Regions from separate parts of the Homo sapiens genome. Here region 2 is linked to region 1. Evidence: fine-mapped expression QTL. Tissue or cell type: T cells. Region 1 holds a variant in brackets; the other region holds the start of a gene. All regions are shown on one strand. Distances are from middle to middle.

The links. PIP is the estimated chance that this variant, and not a neighbour inherited with it, causes the effect. A credible set is the group of variants that fine-mapping cannot tell apart.
Region 2: it holds the start of AKAP6, and the variant in region 1 is the best candidate, but not a certain one, in a credible set for the expression of AKAP6 in T cells (TOPMed, PIP 0.65).

What each region holds. Positions count from the first base shown.
Region 1 is chr14:32,222,043-32,227,431 of GRCh38, reverse strand. No RefSeq gene overlaps it. Among named protein-coding and RNA genes, the nearest start is that of RNU6-8, 21 kb to the right of the region's middle. The variant G/A (reference allele first, on the strand shown) is at 3,215.
Region 2 is chr14:32,326,232-32,331,620 of GRCh38, reverse strand. It overlaps AKAP6 (A-kinase anchoring protein 6), which reads right to left and starts at 2,323. Exons shown (of 14, transcript NM_004274.5): 1 at 2,213-2,323. RefSeq lists an enhancer at 64-358.

The sequences.
Region 1 (5,389 bases):
TCTGGAATCAAAGGGCTGTATTCTGTGTCTTTGCTGATTCGGGAATGTGCCTTGATAATGGAGACAAAGATCTTGGTGGTAGTTTTCCTTCTTCTTGGTAGGCTTAATATTACTACCGTTGAAAAAAGGCAACCACTCTGGGCAAATAACAAAAAGTCTCCCCTTCCTCCTGACTGACTGAGGGAAGGGGCACATACTTGGGTGACTAGAGATGGGCTTTGTGCAGGGACACTGCATGTCCATGCAGACTTGGTCCTTTATGACACCTCTTTGCCCACCAAATTCATGGCTTTCACTACATAAATACATGAAATACTATCTCAAGTTTCTTAACACCCAGACCTAAAAAAGAGGGAGTTGACTTTCCAAATAGAGAAAGTGGCTATAATACATTTTTGCATATATCTTATGTACTTGGAAACTCATTTGAAGTTCCCTAATGCTGCACTATCTTCATTTGTTCATAATGGCCCATCTCTCACCATCTCCATCAGTGAAGCAGAAATTTGTATTGCTCTCAAACACAACACAAATAGAATTCCCAGCAACCGGAGTTTTATCCAGAAACAGTAATGAAACATAATAATCCCAAGCTGACAAGAAGCCCAATGACTATTAATAGAGAGAAACAATATGAAAGTGTCAAATAGGGTAGAAAGCAAGCTACAGCTGGGTTGAAACACTAACTTATTAGGAATAGAATGTAGAATCAAGTGGCAAATTGTCCTACGTCTTATTTTCTTTGCTTTTTGTTAGTCCTGATTGATCCCCATCCAGTTCACGATGGGACACATACTAGCCTAATTTGATTTGGGAGCCAACAACCCAGGTTGTCAGATGCTCCTGTTAAGGCAGGTCCCAGGCCCCAGTTTGGCTGAGTGTTCCTGGGTCTAAGATACCTTTCCTACCATCCATTGCAAAGTGGGGTTGTGTGTATATATTAGCAACAGCAGTAAGCATGACAGTGAAAAGATTAGATGTGGCACCAATTCCATGTTTTACCTGCATCTTTAGAGGACTGAAGATTCTGCTCCGAGGGTAACAGAAAAACCCCACAGAACTGCACATGGAGTGACTTTCATATTTTCCAGACTTTCTGGCAAGGCCTTATTGCTCAAAGGACATTTGAGTGGTTAACACTCAAGTGGTTATACTGCATTCCATCTAAGAACCTTTCAGTGAGTCTTTCAGTATAAGGAAGCATCAAATAAAGGAACTACTGATTTACAGACCAAAGATATGTACTGAGTTTAGAAACATTCAATTATCTTATCTGTGGAAAACAATGTACTTAGCACCAGCATGAGGAAGAGCTTTAAAGATGACAGAGACACAAGAACACTCCCCTCAAGGAACCTTACAAAGGAAAGAAACAGGCATTAACACCAATAGAAAACAAGAGAGGAAGAGAGTCCAGATGTCAGGGGCTGTGATTGCTGAAAGAGAACCAAATTTGGAACTTGCCATATCATCAACACCTTTTATGTATTTTTCATTCCTCTAGAGTAAAACCTTATCTCTTCTTACCTGTCAAGAAGAGAAACTACAATAAACAGAAATATGTGCCTTGGGGAAGATTTGTCTGTACTCTTTTGCTATTCCCTGGACAGAGACCTGGAGGCCTATTTTCAAATTAAGTTGGTTATGATGTGTGTGAATGATACGGTTAGTAAGACAAACTAGGCAATAGATCAAAAAGATAAGAAAGACCCACTAAGGCAAGACTGTGATCCACCTGCCAGCAGTTACCTGAGTTCTATAGCAGGGCTAGGAAGGACATATACCTATTGATCCAAGAAAATGGCACCATAACTGCATGCCCCAAGGCTCTGTCAGTATTTAAACCCTGGGGAGACAGTAATTGTGGTCCTGGCAGGAAAGCCTGTGAAACCAACTGCAGAGCTTCCCAGTATACTAGATTTGAAAATAAGAGGCTTTGCTGATAAGACAAGTGGAGCATTGAAAGTAACTTGGGATACTGAAAATCCTCTGCCAGACTCAATTCAGCTTGATTGTAATTGTTGACTCCAGGCCTATCTCTGAAAGACATCAAACACAAAAAGAAAAAAAAAAATCTGAGAAAAAAAACACAGCTTATTCCATTTGGGGGACAGAAATTGAGACATGTAACAGATGGAATGGGGAAGGGCAAAGGGCTTAATAAGATTCACTACAGGATTAGGCTTTCGTTTGATTAAAACCAGCCTATGCAGGGCAGAGGCAGAACAAAATCACACGGCTCTGACTCATCATGCTTCAGCGTGTGCAGCCACCACCAGGGGGGCAAGACCAGGTGGAAGCCATATATGCACAAGCCCTGCTAAGCAGAATCATAACTGGTGGACTCGGCTCTGAAGGTTTTGCCTTACTTTTCCATGTTATGAAAGTCTAGGCTGAAGAAAGAATAGCTCATATGGTACTAACATAGAAGCTGTCGGCTTTACATTCTCAGTGCCTAATGCAGTGGCAGATGCATCTGTGCTTGAATAACTGTTTTTGAATGAGCAAAGGCCTAACCTCTCAGTTATGTCCATGAGGTCCGGGAGGATGTATAGGTATAGTCTGTGACTAAATGTTCTGATCTGACAGTCCCATAACTTTGTAGCAGCATAATCAGTAATGCCCCCTTTCATGTGCAAAAGTGTGTCAGTTTTCAACTTACCAAAGACCTCTCCCAAAAATTAGTGATAATAAAGAGAAGGAAGAAAAGAGAAAACCTATCTTTCTACAAATAAATAAATGAAAAAATAGCTTGAGTAAGGTCTACATGTGGGTAAGGAGATAGAGTTTCAGCTCTGTGAATTTTTCTTACTATCAGAAAAAAAATATTGACTTATGTGCTTGCTTTTTTAAGCAAGCAGTCTGATTTACTCCTGGGACTTATATCTATTTCCATTTATTTAGATTACCGTTTACACCAGCAGGATTCAAGAACAATTCTATTTTGTTCAAGACAAATCATCGTTCACTCTGGGAAGCCCAAAGACATCATAAAAATAAAGAGATGTAGCAGGAAAAAGGAATGTTAATAAGAACTGGATCCACTAATGGGTTGGGATATTTATGTTTTTTACCTTTTATATTTTACATAAATTTTTTTCAACCTTTCTCTCAGACCACGAATAGGAGTTTATTATCTGGTGTGTAAACCACTTGTGAGCTTCTGGTATGACTGCTAACAAGAAAATAATATTTTCTTTCTTAAGAAAACAAA[G/A]CACAAGACTCATTTGGCCATATCAAATGCAGGACTGAACTAGAAACCTTGAAAAAATAAACGCAATTTCACATAGTATGGCATAAAGTTAGACTCTGAAGATATGGTTTGGAATTCTACTCTGTCTATTCCCAAGTGGCCTTGGACAAATCTCTTGGAGCCTCAGTTTCTCATCTGCACAATTAGGGAGTTGTTTGCTAAAGCTCCATCCATCACTGAAGCTCTATGAGTCTCTGACTTGATCATTTGGTCAGTAAGAACTAATTTCTCCCATCAGCCTTTTAGAGAAGATGGTTCGCTCCCATTCCCTATGCCCACATGCTACTAGTCATCTTCTAACACTCTGAAAAATAGCCCATGGAGGGGCATGGAGGCTCATAACTGTAATCCCAGCACTTTGGGAGGCTGAGGCAGGCAGATGGCTTAAGCCTAGGAGTTTGAGACCAGCCTGGGCAACATGGCAAAACCCTGGCTCTACAAAAAATACAAAAATCAGCCAGGCATGGTGGTATGTGTCTGTAGTCCCAGGTACTCGGGAGGCTGAGGTGGGAAGGATTCCCTGAGCCTGGGAGTCAGAGGTTGTAGTGAGCCAAGATCGCACCACTGCACTCCAACCAGCCTGGGCAACAAAGTGAGACTCTGTCTCCAAAGACATATAAAAATAGCCCCTGGGAAAAAAAAATAAAATAAAAAAAAATAAAAATAGCCCCTGGGATCTCTATGCTCTCTCAATGCCCCCATCTTTCCCTGAATCTGATGCTTTGGATTACACAATTCCATCAGAGTGACTTCTAGTAAATGAAAACTCACCATGCCTGGCTATACCTTGGCTATGGGCTCTCTGAGCACAGCAAAATATTTCAGATCAAAGATTCCATCTGTCTTGAGCTAGAAAATAGTGTCTGAATAACAAAGTTTACTGCAAATTAGCCAGCTCAGGTCCACTACTATGAAATAAATTGGTCAGTCTTCCATGTCTTCCAATATATGTTCAATGGATTCAACAATACAGCAATTTCAACCCCTCTCCTCCTCAGCAAAGAATATTACTTCATTCTACTTACCTAGAAAGGTGCCAACATTCCCTGACTTACTACTTACACCCATTGATTCAAACCTGACTCTTAGATGCGTTTATTTAAAAGAGCCTAAGCAAAGCCTAAAAGTTATTCATTTTCCATTAGTGAGAGTGGATCTTCCAGGATTTTCTGCAGTGACCTTTGTCAACCTGGTTTAAAATGGTGGTCATGATTTGCTAGTAGCCTCTGTTCCTGTGAGGTGGAAACACTTTTATATAGTCAGGCCCCCCAGGGGGGCCTGGCTTTAAACACCTGATTTTAAACATCACTTGGAGATTTCCTGAAAGATCCTTCATAGTACTATTTCTTGGAATTGTGGGGACTGTGAAATAAGATGATGTATTTAAAGCACACAAAGCCTGCATTACAAGAACTCATTTTTTTTTTCCAGTGGATGGGAAAGTTACCTTAGAAGAGGTAGATTGCAGAATTTCTTTTGATGATGATGAGGAAGGATTACTGTGAGTAGGTGGTAAAATGGTAGGGGTAGGAAAGAAGGAATTGAGGCTTATATAGATAGAAAAGTAGAAACGAATGGGAACAGATATAGAATAAAACACGAACACAGTGTGCGAAAGTTCTTCCAGACTCTAGGTTTTCAACATCTCAAATGGCACATTCATGAAAACTTTACTTTCTGGTGGGACTCGAATTCCATCCTCATTACAGAACCTGTAATCTACCTACAAACTTCCCCTTTCTGCTCTCTAAACGTGGCGGTCATAAGAACACACTCTTTGCTCCCTAGTTCTTATGCATAATTTCTCCATCTCCCCCACAGTACCAATAGCATTCACATCTCTACATTTGATTTCTGTAGTCTAAGTGGAAACAGATACCTGAGATTCTATTTTACAGGTAATTTGGTAAATTCCATAATGTCAGGGCCCATGCCCATCTAATTCTCCAGGAATTGTATCCACCACTGCTCTCCTGTATTCGACAGCCCATGTTTGATATTTTCTTTATGGTAATCATGGGAGGCATATATAGACTACAGCATTTGCTCTGTGACTAGCTGAAAACAGCTTCCCATTCAAACATTGTCCCACTCCAAACATCAGTGTTTTCCCCCATCCCTCACCCTGCTGGTAAA
Region 2 (5,389 bases), 100 kb before region 1:
TAATCAGAGAGCAGCGCAGGCTGTGGCCCTCTACAAAGAAACGAAGAAACAAAACATTAGGATGATAGCTCTCATTACCAGGGCTTTGTTCTCCTGGAGCAAAAAGAGCACAAAAGCATAAAGTTGGAGAACTGTAATTGCATTTTGAACATTTGCGGGGGGAAAAATTACAGGGTTGTCTGAACCGGGAGGATGTTCCACTAGATAACTGCGTCAGTCCACACCCACCAGCGCCCTTCCCCACCCTCAAAGCATGACTCCACTTTTTCTAACACTGCCCTTAAGGAATCTAGCTTTTGTGACTTCCAGTAATTGAACAAATCAACCATGATGAAGCAGCTGAAGAGCACTTTAAACAAAAGAGACAAGAATTAAGCAAACAGAAAACTCATTACAATGCTGCCTTTTGCTTTTTTTTACTCCTAGAAATTCATGTTACCAAACAAGTCTTTCTTCATTGCTCTTCTTCAGAAATAATACTTTAAGAAAATTCTAAAAGGCACTAAGTGATTTTATCCAGATTTATAATCTAGCTACAAGACATACTTTCCCTTCCCCCATCACCATCTAGCACTCTTCCCTGTCACCTTAGAGCTTTCGACTTAGATGTGTTCACACCCAGCAGTCCCAGCAGAGCTTTCTGCTCACATTATATGACATAAAAAAGCAGGCAATGAACAATTCATGCTTCTAAGTGCTTGCGATAAAGCCAGGCTGAGCTGACCTCTCCCATCCTATACAGCTGCATGTCAGAAACATAAGCTTAAAGGACTGAGAGTAGCAAGCATGTGCGTGATGTGGTATAAACAAACAAATTAAAACCTGAGGCCTTTCCTCTGGCTGGTGCCTAATGGGACTAGCATACTTAACTCTGTGCAAAAAAAAAAAAAAAAAAAAAAAAAAAAAATCACTCCAAGCTAGCTAAAGGTATTGCTTTTCCTGCTTTCCATGATATATCTCTTTAGCCCCAATAAACAGACTAAAAGAAGAGGAATTCAATGGTTGCCATTCTTTCGTGTAAGACTTTTTGAGTAAAAACTATCAATTTGGCAGCATTAAGCCACAAGACCACTCCCTGATTCTAAGTGGACATATTGATCAATTGAACTGACATGTGCCTCCTCCTTTCTCTCCCCTAGTAGCAATCAGCTGTACCAGGGAAATCCATTTCATTTCCCAAAACAAAAGGCAACATTCTGCTCCTTATCTGACACTGTCAGACTAATTTTTTAGAAAATAATAATAATAATAAAGATGCCTAAAAACAGAGCTAGGAGTTGAAATGAAAATGATACGTGTTTAGAGTTTTGGAATTGAGTTGAGGTTATGACTGAGTCCAGAGGTCTGTAATCCCTACAACCACTGAGGACCCTGATATTTATTCATCATACCCAGATTTTTGTTAAAGTTAAGCAAGGGATGGCAACACCACTGCCACTTCAGAGGCTCTCCCAGGGTTACCCTTCACTGCAACTGCCGCAGAGAGGAGACTTGTTCCTTTCTCAGTTACAAGTCAGCCTGCAAACAACTCCAGCTATTTCAGAGACTAGCTAGAGATGGAAAAATATGTGGCAGTCTTTCAACTAACTCTGAAGGACATGGGTTGAAGAACTACCATATAGATCAAAAGGCTCAAATAATTTCATTTGGTTTAGGTTTTTATGCTTTTAATAAATTCTGTCTTGAATATGCAAGAGATCCCCTTTCACATCAGGGTTATGTCAAATGCTTATTCAGCATTTGTTCCTTGCCATGAAGAAACTGAAACCCAACCGAGGTAAATAATGAATTTCATACTGCAAATCACTGAATATTTCATAATTCACAAGAGCAAAGAGGGGGCCAATTAGCTCTGCCTCCCAAAAAGAAATCTATATTTTTACAATGCTTAAATACTGTTAACTACTCATTTTAAAGCTTATCTGGGGTTTTGCAATTGAAAAATCATCTTATGTTTATGAAAAATTCTGTAAGAACACTTAAAAATAACAGACAGAGCTGGAGCAAGAATAATTCTACATATTTTAATTCCTATATGACTCTTACAGGCCTTTGTCTTAACCCGGCAGCCTGAAAAACGATTTAGGTAAAACAGCCCTTCTTTCCCCAGTCCATTTTAAGCAGAGACAACATCCCCCAATCTCCGCCTTAGCAGACACCGACTAACCAACAAAACAGCCGTGCAATTAAGGCCCAGACATTTAACACTCACCATCTCCTGATCCCACCGTCTTCTTTTGATGTTTACAGCACATCTGTAGGATGCAATACTAGGAGATGCCTTGTTTGACCTGCTGCATGATGCTGTGACATCAGTTCAGATGATGCAGCTCATTATGGGAAAGACTGCTGTTGCTATGGCAACTGGGATGTGCTAGGAATCCTTGCTGCATTTCCAGTGGAGCCTGAGACAATACGGAAGCCCTGTAAGAAACAGACGATATGCAAAATTTAGACCAAAGGAAGAGGATTCCTCATTGGACTAAAATCCATAGGTTTAAAAGGGATTTCCCTGAAAGCATTTTGGAAAAAACAAAAATTATCTCCCCCTTTGTTGTTATACATTTAGAAAAAAAAGGTGGGAGGAGAAAATAGAATTAGTACTAAGCAAATAAAAACTGAAATGTACAATGTTTCCTTATTAGACAATTTGATCACTTTTTCCTCCCTGGTCAGCACTGGGATAGCTTTTTAAAAGTTATTAAAAAGAATTTTTGCTCATCTGTCAAAGACCAAAAGAACAAAACAGCGAGCACAAAAATAATTAAAAATGGAATATAAACAGCTGACCAAATGACTCTAACTCTCAAGTAAACAAGTTTTAATTCTCAAAACATGGGCAAACCCTTGGCCAATGAAGTCTGTCCTGGTTATTTTCCCTGATGAACACCAACCCACAGAACCTTCCCATGCAGAATAAACCCAGCTTTCACCTGGTCATCAGATAGGCAGCAAAGGGAAGTTTGGAATCTAGAGGGGCACAACACACCACCCTCAACTTCTACTGACCCTTCCTTTGGCCTGCAGGGAACCCCTCCTTCTCATGGCCAAAACGCATGTGAGTCTTTTCTGGGATCAAACCTAGTGGTTGGAACAAGTAGCAGACCTGCTAGAAACTTCCTAAATCGTTGGCATTCCAAACATTGGGGTCTGTTTTCTTCTTTTCTGAACAATAAAACTGCCTACCACACAGATTATTTGTGCCCCTCCCCAACCCCAAAAGCTGGAACTGTGTGAAAAGCCACATTTAAACAAGACACGGTAAGGCATTTCTCCAGTTGGTAAAAGAAAAGCAAATCTAAAGCAATCACTTCTTTCCAGTCCTGAGCAGAAATCAACGTCATGTGGTGAGAACTGGGGAGAAGGAGATATGGACAGAGCAGCCTATGTTTTGCATATTTAATATTTGCAGGCCATTGATAGAGAAAAGCAGAATCAAGTTGACCTGTATCCACTCCGTCTTCACAACTCTGAAAAAGAACAACATTCCAAAAGCTTAAAACATGAGACAATTATGTTGTCTCCTCCTGCTTGAGATTTTAAAATGGCACTGTTAACCACCAGCATAGGCGGTGTGGGATGAGTGGCAGAAGGAATTCAGGCAGTGTCTCTGTAAACAGGAGCTAATAAAATGCCTGAGAAGTGCCAATATCCCAGCAGCGTGCACCATCAGCCTCGCACAGAGCAACCCTGCCCTAGATGGGAAGACAGACTTGTTCTTGCTTCATCTAGAGAGGAATTAAGAGACCAAAAGCAGGAGGTGAATCTGCCTGCTTAGGTCCTTTGTGGCATCAGCAGAGCCTGACTCCCTCCCTTTATCTTAGACCTCAGACCACATGCCACACACAAGGGGAGAAGTAGCAGGCAGCTACCCCAGTACAAAGAGTACAGATCTGAGAGTCAGGAAACCCAACTGTAAATGTCAGGTCCTCCTAGAGCATCTGTGTGATATCAGGCCAATTGATTAACTTCTTGGGGCCTCAAGTTTTTCATCTGCAGAGATGATTGATTTAGCTAATAACCATAGTTTTCAGGTTTTTCATTAGTAATATAACCTTTCTTTTAATGATACAGATCAAAGCTGGACTGCCTTGGTTGAGGCAAGATAAGAAGCCCAGAGCCCAGACTGATGAGCCATTCTCAACCACTGCCTCCAACCTCATTTGCTGTAAGCTGACTCTTTAAGATACCTCTGAAGAACCCTTCAGTCTCTGGAGAAGATAAAGAGACATGGACCTATTACAGAACAAGATTAGTCTTTCCAGAGCTGAAATCCACATGCTATAAAGAGGAGAGGACAGGGTGGGAGCAGGTGTTCCAGATTTGAATATGGCTTCTCAAGATGGTAAGAATCTTGTTAATCTTTTTTGCCAGAAGCAAGTCAATCATTTGATGGGAAGAAATGGATGGCTCATCAAACCTGAGGCCAGGTCAAACTTTTAGCAACCTGGACTAGCTAAATTGCTTGCCCACAAAATGGCACTCACCAATGAAACGGAAGTAGAAGTGGAAACCATCAACTCCAAAGGTGGCTAAGACCAAGTGTCTCTTCTTCATGTTTTCCTGTCCTGCTAGCTGGATGCAAAGAATCCAGTGGAACTCTGAAGCCCAGAAAGATAATGGCCACACATTGTGGATGGAGCCTGGGTCCCTGAATGACTGCATGGAGCTCAACCATCCTCTCCCAACTACCTATTGACCTACACTGGGCTGCAATGAGTGAGAAACAAACACCACCAAGATTTTGGGGTAGTTTATTCTGAACAAATTATCCATTTATAGATAAAATTATAATTTAATAAAATATAAATTTTCTAACAAGATTATATTATATATCATTATTTATGATAAAGTGACAGTGTTAAAAACATGTTCCTTTATTGCAGACTTTCTTTTTTTATTTTATATTACTTTAAGTCCTGGGATACATGTGCAGAACATGCAGGTTTGTTACATAGGTATACATGTGCCATGGTGGTTTGCTGCACCTATCAACCCATCATCTAGGCTGTAAGCCCTGCATGAATTCGCTATTTGTCCTAATGCTCTCCCTCACCTTGCCCACAACCCCCCGAAGGGCCCTGGTGTATGGTGTTCCCCTCCCTGTGTCCATGTGGTCTCATTGTTCAAATCCCATTTATGAGTGATAACATGCAGTGTTTGATTTCCTGTTCCTGTGTTAGTCTGATGAGAATGATGGCTTCCAGCTTCATTCTTTTTTATGGCTGCATAGTATTCCATGGTGTACATGTGCAACATTTTCTTTATCCAGACTATCATCGATGGGCATTTGGGTTGGTTCCAAGTCTTTGCTATTGTAAATAGTGCTGCAATAAACATACATGTGCATGTGTCTTTATAGTAGAATGATTTATAATCCTTTGGGTAT